2 linked regions of the Homo sapiens genome follow. The main gene of each other region encodes a partner of the protein of the gene in region 2 in a complex. Each region holds a gene or a part of one and is shown on either strand. Other genes may lie near its edges. A codon is read from its position in the direction of its gene.

What was found. Proteins that work in one complex are often made in the same cells at the same time.
Region 1: the proteins of TAPBPL (region 2) and MR1 are in contact, whole or in part, in an NMR structure (PDB 7RNO), measured with the Homo sapiens proteins. Residues at the interface, in NP_060479.3 of Homo sapiens: His47 (codon at 995), Arg48 (codon at 992), Gly49 (codon at 989), Ala50 (codon at 986), Ala52 (codon at 980), Ser53 (codon at 977), Ser54 (codon at 974), Leu129 (codon at 600), Met131 (codon at 594), Thr132 (codon at 591), Glu133 (codon at 588), Thr135 (codon at 582), Arg228, Gln230, Lys232, Gly233, Arg234, Gly235, Thr280, Ile282, Gln293, Ile295, Gln297, Arg307, Leu308, Ser309, Ile320, Cys321, Asp322, Leu355; in NP_001372090.1 of Homo sapiens: Arg101, Arg104, His105, Asn107, Thr129, Gly130, Phe131, Leu132, Gln133, Ile143, Phe144, Asn145, Asp147, Thr148, Leu152, Ala153, Val154, His159, Thr160, Lys162, Gln163, Ala164, Ala167, Asn168, Gln169, His170, Thr213, Phe214, Pro215, Asp248.

What each region holds. Positions count from the first base shown.
Region 1 is NC_000001.11:181,043,949-181,047,693, forward strand, and holds part of MR1 (major histocompatibility complex class I-related protein 1 isoform 1 precursor), read left to right. Parts: intron 1-3,745. UniProt on the Homo sapiens protein: Antigen-presenting molecule specialized in displaying microbial pyrimidine-based metabolites to alpha-beta T cell receptors (TCR) on innate-type mucosal-associated invariant T (MAIT) cells.
Region 2 is NC_000012.12:6,450,391-6,454,135, reverse strand, and holds the start of TAPBPL (tapasin-related protein isoform 1 precursor), read right to left. Parts: upstream 2,095-3,745; 5' UTR 1,888-2,094; coding exon 1,824-1,887; intron 1,586-1,823; exon of another isoform or gene 1,517-1,585; intron 1,070-1,516; coding exon 839-1,069; intron 690-838; coding exon 420-689; intron 1-419. Other genes in the region: CD27 antigen, read right to left, coding at 2,562-2,980, 3,122-3,241, 3,506-3,595. UniProt on the Homo sapiens protein: Component of the antigen processing and presentation pathway, which binds to MHC class I coupled with beta2-microglobulin/B2M. Association between TAPBPR and MHC class I occurs in the absence of a functional peptide-loading complex (PLC).

The sequences.
Region 1 (3,745 bases), on a different chromosome or scaffold from region 2:
TTTTTGTCTGATCTTTTTTTTTTTTTTTTTTTTGAGACAGAGTCTCACTCTGTCGCCCAGGCTGGAGTGCAGTGGCGTGATCTTGGCTCACTGCAAGCTCCGCCTCCCGGGTTCACACCATTCTCCTGCCTCAGCCTCCCAAGTAGCTGGGACTACAGGTGCCTGCCACAACGCCTGGCTAATTTTTTGTATTTTTAGTAGAGACGGGGTTTCACCATGTTAGCCAGGTTGGTCTCGATCTCCTGACCTCATGATCCGCCCGCGTCGGCCTCCCAAAGTGCTGGGATTACAGGCGTGAGCCACTGCGCCCGGCCTGATCTTTTTTCTTAACTATATGCTTATAAATGAGGAGGAAGGAATGAATATCATTAAGTGGTATTCACCCTTGCAAGATTCTCTATAGTGGCAAGGGCCAGGTTAGAAGATCTGAATGTAGGGGAGGTCCTAAAGGTGATGGCAGCAGCAGGGTGGGCAATCTGGAAAGACTGGGGAAGTGTTGTGTAGTACAGCTCTTAGACACAGGCAAGAGAAGCCCCTGGATATGGCCCCACATTCAGAGAGCCCCACTCTGGCCCTCTGCTACCCACATCCTTTCCCACAGAGCGAGGAGTGCGTGAGGCTGAGGGGAGGTGGTAACCCTGTGTCTGGGCCCCTCCACTCTAGACCAGACTCCAGGCACCCAGGAACCTGGAGTTCCCCACTCAGCTGACTCAGAGCTGCTGAGGTTTACACAACAAACTCGCACTTTGGCCCATCCTCCTAAAGGTGGACTGGCTGCCCTTGAGGGCCTTGCTAGGCCTGAGGGGTGGCCAAGAGGTGGGAGGATCACTTAAGCCCAGGACAAGCTCAGACAAGAGGCAGTTTGTGGCTGAGCCTGAATAAAAAAGTAGAGGTGTTTAATTGTGGGAGGCCCTTGGCAGTGCTGGAAGGAGCAAGAAACAGGAAGAAAAAGAGGTGAGTCTCAGGCTGAGGGCCGGGGACTGGAGGGAGACACCAGCTTTCTCTGTGCCGCCCCATTCAGGCCCAGAACTTCACACAGTGTGAGATTTTTTAATTTGAACTTGGTCTTCGAAGCCATACAAAGGGCAATCTCTCAAGGTGGGGGGATAGAACATATTTCAAGTTTGTTAGATTGATTTATTCCTTTTAAATATCTGGATCTCTGGTATGTGAGCCTCCATCTGTCATCTCAATTTAGCCATGAAATTTTAGGGATGATCCTGTTTTAGGGATGAAATGTTTTTGGAGGTGGGTTTTGAGGACTGGGAAGGATTTAGATGGGTCAGAATGGCAGGAGATAACAGGACAAAAGGCTTGGACATGGGCATCTGCAGACACCGGCAGGCAGAGTAGGGGAAGAAAGCCATTGTGGCTGCATACCTTCTATTTGCCAGCTTTTGGGGATGGCATGGGGTACGTAGCCTTCTCAGCCTGGGCTCCACCTCCCAGGCATCGCCTCTGCCCGTGACGCCTGTCACTGTGCTCCAGACGTCCCAGGCCATTTGGTTCCCATGCACGCCCCGCCTTCTCGAACCTCCTGCTTGCACATGTGGTCTCTGCCCTGCTCCCCCTGCCCGCCCTCCTGCATCCCCTCCCAGCCCCTCTGCCTACTCACCTCCTACCTGTCCCTGAGACCTCCCTAAGACATCACCTTCTCTGGAAGTCTCTCCTAAGGGCCCACACCAGCTTGGATCCCATAACACTGAGAGGTGACAGCGTGCTGGCAGTCCTCACAGCCCTAGCTCGCTCTTGGCGCCTCCGCTGCCTGGGCTCCCACTTTGGCGGCACTTGAGGAGCCCTTCAGCCCACCGCTGCACTGTGGGAGCCCCTTTCTGGGCTGGCCAAAGCCGGAGCCCGCTCCCGCAGCTTGCAGGGAGGTGTGGAGGGAGAGGCGCGAGCGGGAACCCGGGCTGCGGGCGGCGCTTGCGGGCCAGCTGGAGTTCCAAGTGGGCGTGGGCTTGGCGGGCCCTGCACTGGGGGCAGCCGGCCCTGCCGGCCCGGGCAATGAGGGGCTTAGCACCCGGGCCAGCGGCTGCGGAGGGTGTACTGGGTCCCCCAGAAGTGCCAGCCCACCAGCGCTGCAGCTCGATTTCTCGCCGGGCCTTAGCTGCCTTCCTGCGGGGCAGGGCTTGGGGACCTGCAGCCCGCCATGCCTGAGCCTCCCACCCCCTCCATGGGCCTCTGTGCGGCCCGAGCCTCCCCGATGAGCGCCACCCCTGCTCCACGGCGCCAGTCCCATGACCACCCAAGGGCTGAGGAGTGCGGGCGCACGGCGCGGGAATGGCAGGCAGCTCCACCTGCAGCCCCAGTGGGGGATCCACTGGGTGAAGCCAGCTGGGCTCCTGAGTCTGGTGGGGACGTGGAGAACCTTTATGTCTAGCTAAGGGATTGTAAATACACCAATCGGCACTCTGTATCTAGCTCAAGGTTTGTAAACACCAATCAGCACCCTGTGTCTAGCTCAGGGTTTGTGACTGCACCAATCGACACTCTGCATCTAGCTACTCTGGTGGGGACTTGGAGAACCTTTGTGTGGACACTGTATCTAGCTAATCTGGTGGGGACGTGGAGAACCTTTGTGTCTAGCTGAGGGATGGTAAACGCACCAATCAGTGCCCTGTCAAAACAGACCACTGGGCTCTACCAATCAGCAGGATGTGGGTGGGGCCAGATAAGAGAATAAAAGCAGGCTGCCCGAGCCAGCAGTGGCAACCGTCTCGGGTCCGCTTCCACACTGTGGAAGCTTTGTTGTTTCGCTCTTTGCAATAAATCCTGCTGCTGCTCACTCTTTGGGTCCACACTGCCTTTATGAGCTGTGACACTCATGGCGAAGGTCTGCAGCTTCACTCCTGAAGCCAGCGAGACCACGAGCCCACCAGGAGGAACGAACAACTCCAGACGCACCGCCTTTAGAGCTGTAACACTCACTGCGAAGGTCTGCAGCTTCACTCCTGAGCCAGCGAGAGCACCAACCCAACAGAAAGAAGAAACTCCAAACACATCCGAACATCAGAAGGAAAAAACTCCAGACGCGCCACCTTAAGAGCTGTAACACTCACCGCGAGGGTCCACGGCTTCATTCTTGAAGTCAGTGACACCAAGAACCCACCAATTGCGGACACACCACCACCCATAATGCCACCTTGAAACCACTTTGTCTCCGTCAGGCCCTAAGCTTCTTGGACAAGCGGAGAGAAGTTCAATGTGGGAACAGCAGGGAGGGCCAAACAGTTTTGTTTCATTTTGGTTTACTTTTAACCCTTATTACAATCCTTATAACTAGTAAGTAGAAAAAGAATAAGAAAATGGTTAACAGCAGTGGTTTGACATAATAGGAAAAGCACTGTGCTTTAAAAAAAAAAAAAATTTCGGCCGGCCATGGTGGCTCACACCTGTAATCCCAGCAATTTGGGAGGCCGAGGTGGGCAGATCATGAGGTCAGGAATTCGAGACCAGCCTGACTAACATGGCAAAACCCTGTTTTTACTAAAAATACAAAAATTAGCCAGGCATGCTGGCACATACCTGTAATCTCAGCTACTCAGTAGGCTGAGGCAGGAGAATCACTTGAACCCAGGAGGCAGAGGTTGCAGTGAGCCAAGGTCACGCCACTGCACTCCAGCCTGGGCAACAGAGTGAGACTCTGTCTCAAAAAAATAAATAAATAGGCTGGGCACGGTGGTTCACGCCCATAATCCCAGCACTTTGGGAGGCCAAGGCAGGCGGATCACGAGGTCAGGAGTTT
Region 2 (3,745 bases):
GTGACCAGTGTGGATGGAGGTGGATTTGTTCCCTTTCTTCTTCTGTGCCCCATATCTTACCACTTTAGAAAAGCAAAACTTTCTGTGACTTGCTTTTCTTTTCTTTTCTTTTTTTTTTTTGAGATGGAGTTTCGCTCTTGTTGCCCAGGCTGAAGTGCCATGGTGTGATCTCGGCTCACCGCAACCTCTGCCTTCCGGGTTCAAGCGATTCTCCTGCCTCAGCCTCCCTCGTAGCTGGGATTACAGGCACCCGCCACCATGCCCGGCTAATTTTGGTATTAGTAGAGACGGGGTTTCACCGTGTTGACCAGGCTGATCTCAAACTCCTGACCTCAGGTGATCCACCGACCTCGGTATCCCAAAATTCTGGAATTACAGGCGTGAGCCACCACACCTGGCCTTGCTTTTCATTTTCTTACCTGCAGTTCGCACAGTCCCCTGGGGGCTCAGTGGCAAGTTCAGCGTCGGGTGCCAGAGCGCCTCATTCTTGGTGACCCTGGGAGTCTTCATCACCAAGGAGATGCTAGGTCCCCCTCCAGAGACCTGCATGTTGGCCATGAACCAAGCTGCTGTCTTAACAGTGGTCTCTGTCATCTGGAGAAAGTAGCGGGAGATCTCACAGGTCACCTCCTTCCCACTGCAGTCAGCATGGAGCAAGGCCTCGGCCTGGGGAATCTGGACCAGGTCCACTGGGGAGAAGCAGGGCACACACAGAGGGCAAATTAGCGTGAGAACACCAGGGCCAACGGGAGGCAGTATGTGTGGCTGTAATCGGGACCTGGGCTGTCCTGGTGGAGGGAGCCCGGGAGGACCAAGGACACAGGTGGAAGGCTTTTACCTGAGGCCTCAAAGATAATAGGTGGGTCATCTTGGGCCAGTGTGCCCCCTTGGAAATCGGTGAAGTCCTCCAGGGAGCCATCGTCCAGCACTGGCACCTGCTTCAGCACAAGGGAGGCCCTTGCCCTGTCCTCACTGCTGGCGAGAGCTCCACGGTGCGCACCGTCCTTCGCCAGGAAGCAGTCTAGGACCACGTCCACTGCCCGCCACTGCCCCTCTGCTGGGTGGGGCTCTGCAGACAAAGGCTGGGGTGAGCACCGCCTTCCCCAGAAAGCTACTCCACACTTGCTTCCTGCCCCCGCCCTCAAGCTGTGGAGTCATCAAAGGGTAAAAGTTGCCATCCAAGATCCTAGCTGTTTCTGTGTCCCTCTATTCTCCCGTCATCCCCAAACCAGCTTTCTGGAGAGCACCTGCTAGTCCAGGCAAATACTTCTTGGTGAGAGTTAAAGTCCTGGATTTGCCTTGCTCAGAGGAGTTTATGCTTGCATTTCCAACTGTTGAATAAAAGACTATCTTTTCAGTCAAAGGAATTCTCAGAAAACAAGCAAGTGCCACCGCAGAGAGAGGAGACTGGACAGTTACTGTTGCTGGGGCACTGACAGCCTGCACTGCTTTCTCCCATTTCGGGTAGCCTTCCCCTCCCCCGCCTTCAAGGTCACCTTCCAAGTGATTTCCTCACCTGGGGAGTCCTTTCCTCTTCTGAAGTGTCAGCTCCCAGGCCAGTGCCCTCTCTGTAGGACAGTGGCTCCTGACCACAGCCACAGAGGCAGCCCCTCTTTAGCATTTTCCCTGTGGAGTCCCCACCCTCCCTCCACACACACTATTGGTTCCTTCCTTTGCCAGCCGCTGAGCCTTTCCCCTGTTGGGCTTAGAAGGCGATGGGGTCATCCCCGGCCCCTTTGCTCTTCTGGAATCTCGGGGAGGGTGGCACCCTGGGGCTTCAGTAGCTCTTCTCCCAGCCAGCTCTCCCCGACTCCCAGACTCACTGGTTTCTGCTGCTCCAGATAGAGCCAGGCAGAGCAGCAGGCACCAGCCCTCCTGTGTGCCCATGGAGGCTGCTCTCGAGTTCCCTCCTTGCCCACCGCCCTTCTCCACAGTCCTACGCTGCTTGCGAGGCCCGGCGGAAGAAGGGGGCTCTCCAAGCACACCTGGCAGCCTGCAGCCTTTAGGTTTCTTCCCTGTTCCCTCTGCTGCCGACTTTTCTTTCACTTTCACTTAGAGCAAGATGGCAGCCCGCGTCCCTGTGTGAAGCCGTCTGCAGCAGCTGCCAGAGCCCTGCTTGCTGTTTCCTTTCTCACCACCCACCTCACCCGGAAATCCCCTGGTGATTTCAAGACCTGACCTCTGCACCCTTTTGCTCCCCACCTGTCCCAAAAAAGTGGAGCTATAACTGTGGGAAAAGGGGATCTGAAGTCAGACACAGGATCCACAGTAGCCTGGGGACCTTTCTCACCCCCGCCCTTAAGCAGGCCCCAACATAACCGGCTGAGAAACCTCCTCTGCCAGATCCTGACCTGAGCCAGGAGGCGGCCAGGAAACTGGATTTTGGGACTGGGATTTCAGAGAGGAAGCTGGAGAGCTGCAGGGTGGTCATCTGTCACTTTATTTTGCCCGTCTTGTAGCATGTGGGTCTTTCGCAGCAGGAAGTGTGTTTTACAACCAGAGCCCCCGCCCTCCTGCAGCGCAGGCGCAGCTGGCTGGGCTCCTGCTTCCCACTCTCCACCTCATCCATATTTGTCCTCGTCCCTGCCAGTCTCGAAAAGGCACTCTGTCACGTGTACACAGGAAAGGGCCCTGACAAGAGGATGGGACTGCAGTTGTGGCTGCCAGGTCTCACTCTCCCTTGGATGGTCGGCGGGGTGGGGGTGGAGGCCAGGGCTGTAGTGCAGCTCCCGCAGGTGCTGGCTCAGGGGGAGCAGGCAGGCTCCGGTTTTCGGTAATCCTCCTGGATGGGGATGGTGCTGCCCTCCTCCTCCCTGGGGCAGCTGTAATGACAAGGCTCTGCAGGCTCCACAGGACTTTCTCCTTTGTCTGCAGAAGGAGATCCGATGAGTCTTGGCCAGCAGTGGGGGCAGGGGGAGACGGGAGAAGGAGATGGGTAGAGGCGGGTGCGCTTGGGGGAGGGGTGTCAGGAGCACGCCAGCTAAGGGGAGAGAAGGGGTAGGACCAAGGCTGGTGAAGTGGAGCTGGTGGGTTTCAGTGAGATTCCAGGCGTGGGCAGTGGGGTTGAGCCAGTGGGGTGTGGTGCAGGGGCAGGACCGGAGGCCTGTGTTCTGTCTCTTACTTGATCTATATTTCCTTCGTTGATGGAGGAACAGGGCCCCGGCCAGGGTGAAAACAAGGAACATTCCAGAGAAGATCACAAGGATGCGAATAAAATCGGAGCTGCACAGGGATCTTTGGGCTGTAATAGGAGGGGACACACAGGGGTTAGGGGAGGGTCTAGCCCTTGGCTCCCTCAGCCCAGCCCTCCTGTCACCTTGCCTCTCCCCTTTCCCCCACCTTATTCTATCCCACCCGCCACCGTTGGCCAACTCCTCTCCTAAACAGTGGACTCTGCTTTTTCCCCTCCTCTTATCCCTAATCCTAGGAGCTTTCTGTCTGGCTTCCCTCCTGGCCCCTCGTGTATGCATTCTCTCTAGCGGTGGGGATTAAGGAGAAAACTCACGTGGCCAGTGGGTAGAGAGAGTCCGGGCAGGCAGCTGCCTGAAGTCAGCCAGAGTCTGCATGTGCCCAGCTGTCCTGGCCTCCAGCATCTCTGGAAAAACAGAGACAGAATGAGTAGCAGCAGGGGACCCCATAGGGCACATCTGAAGGCCTGAGAGGTGCTGGATGGGATGGGAAGGCAGAAACAGGCTGACCTTATCTAGGGGTAGGAGTGGGGAGTACTGGTTGGGGTATCACCGCT